Homo sapiens: one gene and its partners. The protein of the gene in region 1 purifies or fractionates together with the protein of each later gene. This does not show direct contact. Each region holds a gene or a part of one and is shown in the gene's direction. Other genes may lie near its edges. The genes, in order: SLC45A4, RXYLT1 and THUMPD3.

Evidence for each region.
Region 2: the proteins of SLC45A4 (region 1) and RXYLT1 purify together in Homo sapiens (affinity purification with mass spectrometry; one large-scale study listed by BioGRID and IntAct). This does not show direct contact.
Region 3: the proteins of SLC45A4 (region 1) and THUMPD3 purify together in Homo sapiens (affinity purification with mass spectrometry; one large-scale study listed by BioGRID and IntAct). This does not show direct contact.

The regions. Positions count from the first base shown.
Region 1 is NC_000008.11:141,301,715-141,305,366, reverse strand, and holds part of SLC45A4 (solute carrier family 45 member 4), read left to right. Parts: intron 1-3,652. UniProt on the Homo sapiens protein: Proton-associated sucrose transporter. May be able to transport also glucose and fructose.
Region 2 is NC_000012.12:63,778,364-63,782,115, forward strand, and holds the start of RXYLT1 (ribitol-5-phosphate xylosyltransferase 1), read left to right. Parts: upstream 1-1,545; 5' UTR 1,546-1,597; coding exon 1,598-1,766; exon of another isoform or gene 1,767-2,099; intron 2,100-2,655; coding exon 2,656-2,811; intron 2,812-3,752. UniProt on the Homo sapiens protein: Acts as a UDP-D-xylose:ribitol-5-phosphate beta1,4-xylosyltransferase, which catalyzes the transfer of UDP-D-xylose to ribitol 5-phosphate (Rbo5P) to form the Xylbeta1-4Rbo5P linkage on O-mannosyl glycan.
Region 3 is NC_000003.12:9,365,933-9,369,584, forward strand, and holds part of THUMPD3 (tRNA (guanine(6)-N(2))-methyltransferase THUMP3), read left to right. Parts: intron 1-975; coding exon 976-1,053; intron 1,054-3,652. UniProt on the Homo sapiens protein: Catalytic subunit of the THUMPD3-TRM112 methyltransferase complex, that specifically mediates the S-adenosyl-L-methionine-dependent N(2)-methylation of guanosine nucleotide at position 6 (m2G6) in tRNAs.

The DNA.
Region 1 (3,652 bases):
GGGAGCAAACCTCCCAGCCGAAGAGCAGCCTTGTAGAAAGGAAGGGGTGAGAGGACCCCAAAAGCAGGCGTCTGCAGTGGGTTTTCATGCAGAGGACCTGAGCGGCTGCACCTCCCCCACCGGCTCCTAGACAAGGTCCCCTTGTTTAGATTAGCTTAATTACCCCACCAAAATCAATGAACAAGGATCTTTTTAAATGTGAAACTTTCAAAATGTGCTTCTAGTGGCCTTTTCCCCCGAGTATCAAATGCTAAGCTTTTGTGAAATCAGGCACTTTCAGAGGACCGGGAGACCTCTTTAATGTTCGTGGAAATGAATCTTCTCTACCCTGAATCAGGAGAGGGCCTGCCGAAAGGGAAGCTTAACAGGTCATATTGTCATTTTCAACCCCTTGCCATTTGGGTGGAGGTGACAGGAGAAACAGCATAGTGTTTACGAAGTGGCCTCCTTGGCAAGTGACTTTTGGAGGAGGCATTTTAAGAAGATTAAAAACATCCACAGACTTAGAGGGCAGCCGCATAACCCACTTAGTGTTTCATATCCCTGATAGAGTGGCCCTTTGAGAGCCGTGGATGGGTTGCTGTTGTTCCCACCTCAGACGACGTGGGTGTTATTGCCCCAGGAAGACGGGACACTTGGTAGGGGTCATTTGTTGAGTGCGACTGGTTAGATTGCGGGAAATAGCACAAAACCCTGATGATGGAGAGAAGGGCTCTGAGTTCTCTTTGGCTCAGCTGCTGTGTAGCTTGGGGACTTCAGGTGAGAGGGAGAGGAAGTTCTCTCTCTCCCCCCCTTTTTTTTTTTTTTTTTGAGACAGTCTTACTCTGTCACCCAGGCTGGAGTGCAGTGGTGCGATCTTGGTTCACTGCAGCATCCACCTCCCAGGTTCAAGCGATTCTTTTGCCTCCGCCTCCCGAATAGCTAGGACTACAGGTGCACATCACCATGCCCAGATAATTTTTGTATTTTTAGTAGAAATGGGGTTTCACCATGTTGGCCAGGCTGGTCTTGAACTCCTGACCTCAAGTGATCTGCCTGCCTGGGCCTCCCGAAGTGCTGGCATTATAGTCTCTCTCCTTTGCGTGTGTGTGTGTGTGTATTTAAGAGTCAGGGGGTCTCACTGTGTTGCCCAAGCAGGTCTTGAACCCCTAGGCTCAAGTGATCCTCCTGCCCCAGCTTCCCAAGTAGCTGCTGGGTTATAGGTTCATACTACCGCAGCTGGTGGGATTTCTCTTAAGTTAGAGGGGCTGGGCTGTAGCTGCATTATTTTGAGGGTCATCCCAAGGCCCACCTTCCTGTCTAGTGAGGGCTCCAGAACACAAGTTCACTCTCAGAGTCTGTCGGGAGCCGCGGGGGGGAATAGTGCTGGGCATTTTGTCCCCAGTGCAGGAATAAGGGTGCCAGCCAGTCCAGAGTGGGATCCTGAGGCAGCTGAAGGGATTTGCGTAACCTTTCAAGTCATTGAGCTTGGCCATCTCACCCTCCCACCTCTACTGGGCCCAGGCCCCAGTGAGGGAGGTATTGTTCAGACCTGGGTCTCGGTACTTTCATCCTCCTAAACCTGTTGAAGGATTTTGCTGGCAGTGAGAGGAAACTGCATTCCTGAACTCTGGCCCAGAGGTGCTTAATTTGCTGCATTGAAAAGTCCCTTCCAACCTGGGGTTCTGTTATGCTACTTGCTCTGAGTTTTTGTAGTTTGCCCCAAGGTTTCTCTTGGGGTTCTGCCTTGAAATCCTGGAGCCATCTGAATTGACTGGCAACCAAATTTTTCCTATTTCAAAGAAAGGAAAATCTTGAGTGAAAAATGCATAGCAAACCCTTAGAATAGATAATAAAGAGGGATCAACACAGTGCTTACCTGGTCAGGTGTGGTGGTCATTATACTTTTATATATGACCCTTATTGCACAATTTTAGGAAATCACTCAGGCTGGGCACAGAGGCTCGTTCCTGCAATCCCAGCACTCTTGGAGGCTGAGGCAGGAGGATCGCTTGAGTCCAGGAGTTCCAGGCCAGCCTGAGCAACACGGCAAAACCCCACCTGTCCAAAAAAAAAAAAAAAACAAAAATTAGCCGGGCACGATGGCACGTGCCTATAGTCCCAGCACTTTAGGCGGCTGAGGCGGGCAGATTGCCTGAGCCCAGGAGTTTGAGACCAGCATGGACAACATGGCAAAACCCTGTCTCTATAAATACAAAAAAATTAGCCGGATGCGGTGTCTCACATCAGTGGTCCCAACTACTCGAGAGGCTGAGGCGGGAGGATTGCTGGAGCTCAGGAGGTCCAGGCTGCAGTGAGGGGAGATCACACCCACACTGCACTCCAGCTGGGGCAACAGAGTGAGACCCTGTCTCAAAAAAAAAAAAAAAAAAAGACATTGTAAGGCCAGAAAACAAGAAAATAAGAAAAAACAGAAAATAAGTTCCTTATCACCAACAATGTAGTCATCATTTTAGGGAAATACATTTATTCAAGAGCATGGTTTTTGGTTTGGTGTATATGGGAAGGGAATATTTTGTAAGTTTTTTGAGGGGAGGGGTTTGACATCTCCACGCTGGAGATGAAATCGCATATTAAGAGCATGTTAGACACGAGGCGAGGGGGACTGCCTGAGTATCGTAGAGGCAGCTTTTTCACTGTCAGTGATGAATGAATTAGGAATGTTTTAGAGTTACATTGCTGTCAAGCAAAGGCCTGAAAACATTTTTGCTTATGTGTTCTGTAAAATAACTTTACGCCTGCCGCGGTGGCTCATGCCTGTAATCCTAGCTCTTTGGGAGGCCAAGGTGAGTGGATCACCTGACGTCAGGAGTTCGAGACCAGCCTGGCCAACATGGCAAAACCATCTCTACTAAAAATACAAAAATTAGCCAAGTGTGGTGGTGCACGCCTATAATCCCAGCTACTTAGGAGGCTAAAGCACAAGAATGGCTTGAACCTGGGGGCAGGGGTGGGGTCGGGGGGAGGGAGGGCAGCGGGGATGGGGGTGGTGGTGGTGGTGGTGGTGATGGTGAGTGGCGTGGAGGTTGCAGTGAGCCAAGATTGCGCCACTTCACTCCAGCCTGAGCGAAAGAGCAAGCCTCTGTCTCCATCTAAAAAACAAAAAAAACTTTGAAAAACTATAGACACATTTTTAAGTTGATGTTTAAATTTTTGGTCCTAATTTGAAACAACTGCAAAAGATGCAATTTCTAGTATAATGTTGGCATTTAAAAGTAACCATTGTATTGCTTTTTAAAAAGTATCCAATGTTAAATATCCTAATGATACCTACCATCAGTCACCCTTTTAAAAAATGAACAAATTGTTCTTAACAGTCTTGACAAGGCAGTTTTTTTCTTTGTGAACTTGTATGTTTGCTCCATTTGAAAGTCTTTTCATCCCTCATTCTTTTTTTTCTTTTTTGAGACAGTGTTTCCCTCTGTCACCCAGGCTGGAGTGCAGTGGTGGGATCAGGGCTCGCTACAGCCTTGACCACCTAGGTCTATGCAATTCTCTCTCTCCAGCCTCCTGAGTAGCTGGGACCACAGGTGTATGCTATCATGCCCAGCTAGTTTTTATTTTTATTTTTTGCAGAGATGGGGTCTCACTGAGTTGCCCAGGATTTTTTTTTTTTTTTTTTTTTTTTTTTTGAGATAGGGTCTCATTCTGT
Region 2 (3,752 bases), on another chromosome or scaffold:
AGAGCATATACAGAAAGTAGCTCCCAGCTGTAGCTCAACCATTAAACACCAAGAGAAAGGAAAATGAACTCTGCCAGACTTAGATCAATTAGAAGATTCCTTTGTAACCTAAATACATTTTTAAAAGCTTATCATCAAATTATGCAGTCATTTGCAGTTTGAGGTAAAACAACTCCTTCATTTTCATGGCCCTCTCCCCTATTCAAGATGACATCAACTGCATATTAGTTTTACCTTGTATGCATTTCTCAATAGTAAAACCATTAGTCAGTAGCATCTGAATGTACATTGATACAGTGGGTGTTTTGTGGTAATTATAAGGTAATTACTTCCTATCCTTAAATAATTGTCATTTCCACAAACAAACAAAATAGGATAAACAACAATACAGCATACATAAAACAACTGCCATCTCCCTAAGACACCAGAATAGCCTGTTAATCAAGGAAAGCTAAATTTATTAAATCTACTACAGTAAGGGAGGCCACACTTTGACAGAAGCTTGGCAGTCTCAGAAGGAGAAGGTTGGGGGTGATATTTATAGGATTTGGGGAGTCTGAGCAAAAATGGTTTAAAACAGGTCTTTTGAGGCAGGGAACTGTTTGGGGGATTGGGTAAAGTGTTTGACCTAATAGTTTAGGGTCGGTGCTAGAGTGACCAATTTTACTGATTTCCTAGGACTTTCTCAATTTTAGCACTAAAAATCCTCCAACTGGAGAATCCTTACAGTCCTGGGCAAACTGGGACCATTGGTCACCCTAATTAGCAGACATACCGTCGCAAGACTGCTGGGTAATTTGAACAGTAGTACCAGAGCAACTGACAAAACATTGTAGCCCATCTTCCCAAGGCTGGATACAAAGTTTTCTGAAGCATTCACATTTACAGCCTCTATTTGACAAAATACTGCATGCCTATGTGCGTTCAACTCACATAATAATGAAACTTAACTTTAAAAATGTTTTTATTGCAGTAAGGTATATAAAACATGAATTCGACAGTTTAACTATTTCTATGCATACAAGTGAGTGGTATTAATTACATTCACAATGTTAAGCGACCATCATCACTTAATTTTTTTAAAGGACGTTTATATTCACTCATCTATCAACGTAGTAGGCACTGTCCTAGGCGCTAGGGATTCCATGCAGAGCAAAAAACGTCACAGTCCATGCCTTCACATGGCCTTCATGGACCACCGCGGGTGTTCTTTTTCCCCCGAGTCTTTATGTACTTGGGAAAAGTGGCCAGGGTTGAAAGGTGCAATGAGTACACGGCAGAGGTCAGAGAGGTTCCCACTCAGCCCGGCGTCTGGAAGCAGCGTGGGGTAGGGGCCGCTCCAGTACCCCCTCCTCCAGTGTCGAAGGTGGGCAGGCCCTCGGCCGGGTGGATGAGCCGCGACTGGAGGGGGCGGGGCCTGGGCGGGAGGCGGGCGGTGGGCGTGTCCGGGGCGGGGCTGTACCGGGCGCTGGGCGGAGGAGCCTTGGCTGGGGACTGCCTGGAAACGGGCTGGGCCTGCCTCGGACGCCGCCGGTGTCGCGGATTCTCTTTCCGCCCGCTCCATGGCGGTGGATGCCTGACTGGAAGCCCGAGTGGGATGCGGCTGACGCGGAAGCGGCTCTGCTCGTTTCTTATCGCCCTGTACTGCCTATTCTCCCTCTACGCTGCCTACCACGTCTTCTTCGGGCGCCGCCGCCAGGCGCCGGCCGGGTCCCCGCGGGGCCTCAGGAAGGGGGCGGCCCCCGCGCGGGAGAGACGCGGCCGAGGTAGGACTGGGTCGGCGGCTTCCTTCCGGCTCTGCGCTCCTGGCTGGGGCTGCTGGGCGGCTGGGGCCGGGTCCCCGCACCCGGCTCTCAAGTCCGGGATTACCCGCAGGGCCTGAGAAGCGCTTTGCCCCCTACAGCCTCTCGAGCCAGCCCTTGGCTCGGAATTGGAGAATGGTCCTCATTCTTACCCAGATCTCACACGCCGTCCCCGCTCCCGATCCCAGGGGGTGACAGGCGCGCACGCCTTTCAAACACGTGTTAAAATCCAAGACGTCGTCTCAAATGCCAGAGATTTGCGGGAATGCTCCTGGAAGGCCTCAAAATCGCCGCAAGGTTTAAGACATCCGTTTCCATGTTGAAACAAAGCCCTCTCTAATCCTGCAGTGACCATAAGGCAGACTTTACCTCCAAATTCTGGTCCCCTGTCCTGTGTTTTAACTTGTGTTAAGATCAGACTCGGCTTTCTCTTTCCCTTTATTCAGAATTTTGCACGATAGTATCTAAGACTGGTGAACACTACACTCTGAAGTCAGTTTTTTGTGCATAGGTTACCTGTATACAATGGATAAAAATAATTGCAAAAGTTAAGCTTGTAACTTGATACATATTATCCTGTTATTTTTAAAGGTTTTGTGTTGGGGAAGAGAATTTTCCTGTCTCAAGGTAGCATTTTATTTCTAAGACTTTTCAGAGTAAAAAAAGTTCAGTAAAAAAATTGCTGATTTTCTTTTTTGTTTTCATTGTGTATTACCAGTTTAAATTCAGTTGCTGTACCTCTCAGAAATTAAAGTTAGGATGAAATTAGAACTAACACTTAATTTAAATGATTTGAATTTACCTACAACTGCAATAATACCTTACTGGTAAACACTTACTCTTTTTAAAACAGAACAGTCCACTTTGGAAAGTGAAGAATGGAATCCTTGGGAAGGAGATGAAAAAAATGAGCAACAACACAGATTTAAAACTAGCCTTCAAATATTAGATAAATCCACGAAAGGAAAAACAGATCTCAGTGTACAAATCTGGGGCAAAGCTGCCATTGGTAAGTTAATACGTAGAAGGAAGACATGTAAAAAGCATTATAAAATGTATTTTATTGATATGAAATTCATTTTAATATAATTTATTTCATAATTTGTTAATTAAGGCATCATGATATATTTTTTCGCTTTTTGTCAATAATTCCTTTCTCCTTCCAATTAGACAACATCTGTTTGTAAATGTACACACATACATATTCCACTGTTGGTCTTTAGCAGAGCACAGCTTCATTTATTGATACATTGAGTAGGCTGTATAGTGTCATTAGATTGCAATGCATATGTCAACTGAATTTTCATGAATCTGTGTATTTTTTGGACACTTGATACACAAGTATAAGATGTGGCCCCTGCCCTTGATGGCCAAACACATTTGGGAAACACTGAAGAGTACAAAGTTAAACAAGGTTCTTCATTGCAGGCCTTTCTCAAGAGCCTTTAATATGACAATGTTCATTGTATCAGCGAAGGAATATATTATAGTATGTAGTTGATTAAACTTGATTGACCACAGAAGCATTTTTGCTGTGAATATCATGAGAGTGTAGTGTTCTAAGATATATATTATGCTCAATTAGAGAATGGGGCCCTGAGGGTTTAAAGAGTCACAAAGAATTTAGTGACTTAGAAAGCGCTTTATGTGGCCTTTGAACATGAGTTGGGTTTATGTACAATAAGGCATATGGATAGAAAGTACCAGATGAGAGGAAAATGTACAGAGCATAGTGCTCTGCTCATGGTATTTCATAAATTCGTTCATACTTACATACAAGTATATATCCTAGAAGATTACTACCAACCTCTAAATTTCAAGTACCTGAAACCAGGCCTTCAATCATCAAGTTCTAGCCATTATTTTTTAAATAAAGTCTCTAATATTGATTTCTTCTTTTAAATCTCAGATTTTCATTTCCAGACTTCTCTCTTTTCAATCTGATAAGTG
Region 3 (3,652 bases), on another chromosome or scaffold:
TGAGCATTTCCTTTCAGCATTGTGTTGGGGCTCAAAAAGTTTCAGATTTTTAGATGTGGGCTGCTCAACCTGTAGTAGGATTGCTACATTTTTAGAGGTGATCTAGTATTTCTTGAGGATTGAATTCACCAGAAAGAATACTGTTCAACTTAAGAAATTCTCTAAGTATCTCAGTATTTATTTACTTCAGCATATAGCAGATGTTTAACCTTTGGTGATGAAACATAAAAGAGATTTTCCTTTTAATTTGCATCAAAAATTCTTGCTCAGAAGTAATTAGGACTCACTCAAGGTAAAAAGTGAAGGTCAGAAAACTGCAATCTCACTATCATAAAGCTGATATATCTCATTACCACATAAGCAGTGAGAGGGCAAGGATTGTTGTCTATTTTTTTTTCCACCAATATATCCCACGCTCTTAGTGTCTGGCATATAGTAGGTACCCAGAAAATATCTGTGGGATGAATTGGTAAGCAAATGTTTTCCATCCAATATTTTAGCCAATACCCTCAGCAGCTTTGTGAAGATAGGCACTATTATTATCCTCATTAATCATTAGGCTTAGGACACATAAATAATTTCCCCAGGGCCACTCAGCTAGTAATCACAGAACTGGAGCTCAAATCCCCTGCTTTTAACCATTGCAGCATACAGTGTACCCTAGAAAGTCATCGAGGAAATATGATACAGCCCACCTGAGTGGCTTCACCTTTCTCTTCTCCCACAAAAGACGTGTTGCCCACAAAACACTTCATGCTTCTCTCTTTCCATCTGCCCTTTTTCCCTTTCTCTAGGGGAAAGCTGATTAGTAACCAAAGAGATGAGAAACTAGGGAGATGGGACATTTTAAAAATACAAAATATAGTTAGTAGCTGCTTTAAAACTATCATTCCTAATTTTTTAAATACTTAATTGTTGATAGCTTGTGCTGTTCAAAAGCTTTCTCAGAAATGTGTTTCTTTTTTTTTCACCCAGGTTCATTGTCTGAGATCAGTTGATAACTTATTTGTGGTGGTTCAGGAGTTTCAAGATTACCAGTTCAAACAAACAAAGGTGAGCTATCCTAAACATGGTGGCTGATTTTTGGCTGTCTTCCACAAAGAGATTATTTCCATTTTTCATAGTCTGTGAAAGTTTAGCATTACTGTAGTCTTTGTAATAGAGAATACTGGGAGGCTTTTACAGTAAAATCTAGAGTTTTGCTGACAGTCTATCCCAAAAGATGTTTTTTGAAAATTAGTATTGAAAACCATTAAAGTTTATAAGAAAGAAGAAAACACCTTGTTTTACTTGTAAGAGATATAAACCTTAGATTTGCTTTGCTTTTACATATATTTAGTTCCAAAAGAGAATTGCTTCCAGAACATGAACCAAAGAACAAGTGACAGTTTGTGTCTTCTACAAATAACACTTCCTCACCATCCTGCTTTTGCTCTGCTTTCTTCTCTTTCTTCATTTTTTGAAATAAAGCCAAAATAACATCTAAATACTCCTTCAGTTGTTAGGACAACAGCTTTGTCTCCAATATGTATTTAGCATCTGAATCCTAAATATTCAGCTGCTGCCTAAGCTGAAGGTTGAAAATAGATTGCAGCAAGGCTTTAGGTTTTTTCCACACTGCTTTTTGGTTAGGTTTCTAGAGTTAACCGCTTAAAAACATTTTTCTATCAGTTTTACGTATCTTAGAAATAATCTTTTTAAAAACAACTGTGATACGCTACCTAATTGTCTAACTTTTATTTATTGGCAAGCATGTTGATTTCCAAAACGTTATTCAAAAACGAGTCAAAGTTGTATGAACCCTCAGCCTAGAAAACAATAAGACCAGACCTAAAAGAAGTCAGACTTAAGGGCCTGGCGTGGTGGCTCACACCTGTAATCCCAGCACTTTGGGAGGCCGAGGCGGGTGGATCATGAGGTCAGGAGATCGAGACCATCCTGGCTAACACGGTGAAACCCCGTCTCTACTAAAAATATAAAAAATTAGCCGGGCGTAGTGGTGGGCGCCTGTAGTCCCAGCTACTCAGGAGGCTGAGGCAGGAGAATGGCGTGAACCCGGGAGGCGGAGCTGGCAGTGAGCAGAGATCACACCACTGCACTCCAGCCTGGGCGACAGAGCGAGACTCCATCTCAAAAAAAAAAGTCAGACTGAAAATAGATAAAAATTGTATTAAGTAAAAATCTAACTTTTAGAAAAGCTTAAAGCAATTCTAATGAGTTCTCTTAAGTATTCAGATGATAATCATGAATTTATTAGTCCCCACCCCCCTCTTTTAAAAAATATTGAGATGGGGTCTCACTATGTTGCCCAGGCTGGTCTCAAACTTCTGGGCTCAAGTGATCCTCCCACTTAAGCCTCCCAAAGTGCTGGGATTACAGGTGTAAGCCATTGCACCTGGCCCCCATTCCCCACCTCCACCCGCGCATATTTTTTTTTTTTTTTTTTTTGAGACAGAGTCTTGCTCTGTTGCCTAGGCTGGAGTGCAGTGGCACAATCTCAGCCTACTGCAACCTCTGCCACCTGGGTTCAAGCGATTCTCCTGCCTCAGCCTCCCGAGTAGCTGGGACTATAGGCATATGCCACCATGCCCGGCTAATTTTTGTATTTTTAGTAGAGACGGGGTTTCAGCATCTTGGCCAGGCTGGTCTTGAACTCCTGACCTCGTGATCCACCTGTCTTGGCCTCTCAAAGTGCTGGGGTTACAGGCGTAAGCCACCGCGCCTGGCCTCCATCTGCCTTTTTAAAAGTATGAACAAATCTGTGATTTATATGGGTTTTTAAAGACTAGTTAATACATGTATTTGGAGCAAACTTGTAAAGACTGAATGGATATAGAGTGAAAAGTAAGTCTTTGTTCCTATATCCTCATGCTATGCAGCTCCCTCCCTGGAGGCAACAACTGTTAGCAATTTCTTGGGTATTATTCTGGAGATATTTTACGAATAAATGTATTTTATTTACACAAATGAAAGCATAGCATACATACTTTTCTGCGCTATGCTTTTTTTTCATATACAAGTTGAGTATCCCTTATCTGAAATACTCGGGACCAGAAATGTTTTGGATTTTTGTTTGTTTGTTTTTTGAAATATTCTGGGTTGGGCATGGTGGCTCACACCTGTAATCCCAGCACTTTGGGAAGCCAAAGCAGGTGAATCATGAGGTCAGGAGTTTGAGAGCAGCATGGCCAAGGTGGTGAAACACCATCTCTACTAAAAATACAAAAATTAGCCGGGTGCGGTGGCGGGCTTCTGTAATTCCAGCTACTCGGGAGGCTGAGGCAGGAGAATCACTTGAACCCGGGAGGCAGAAGTTGCAGTGAGCCGAGATCACGCCACTGCACTCTAGTCTGGGCAACAGAGCAAGACTCCGTCTCAAAAAAAAAAAAAAAAAAAAAAAAGAAAGAAATACTCTGAGGGTGGAACCTATGTATAAATAAATCCAAGATTCATTTGTTTCATATATACGTTATACGTATAGCTTGACGGTAATTTTATATGATTTTTAAAATAATTTATACATGAAACAAAGTTTGTGTACACTGAACCATCAGAAAGCAAAGGTGTCACTATCTCAGCTACCTGTGTGGCATCATGTTGGCACTTCAAAAAAATTTTAGGTTTTGGATTTTGGACTTTGAGATTAGGAATG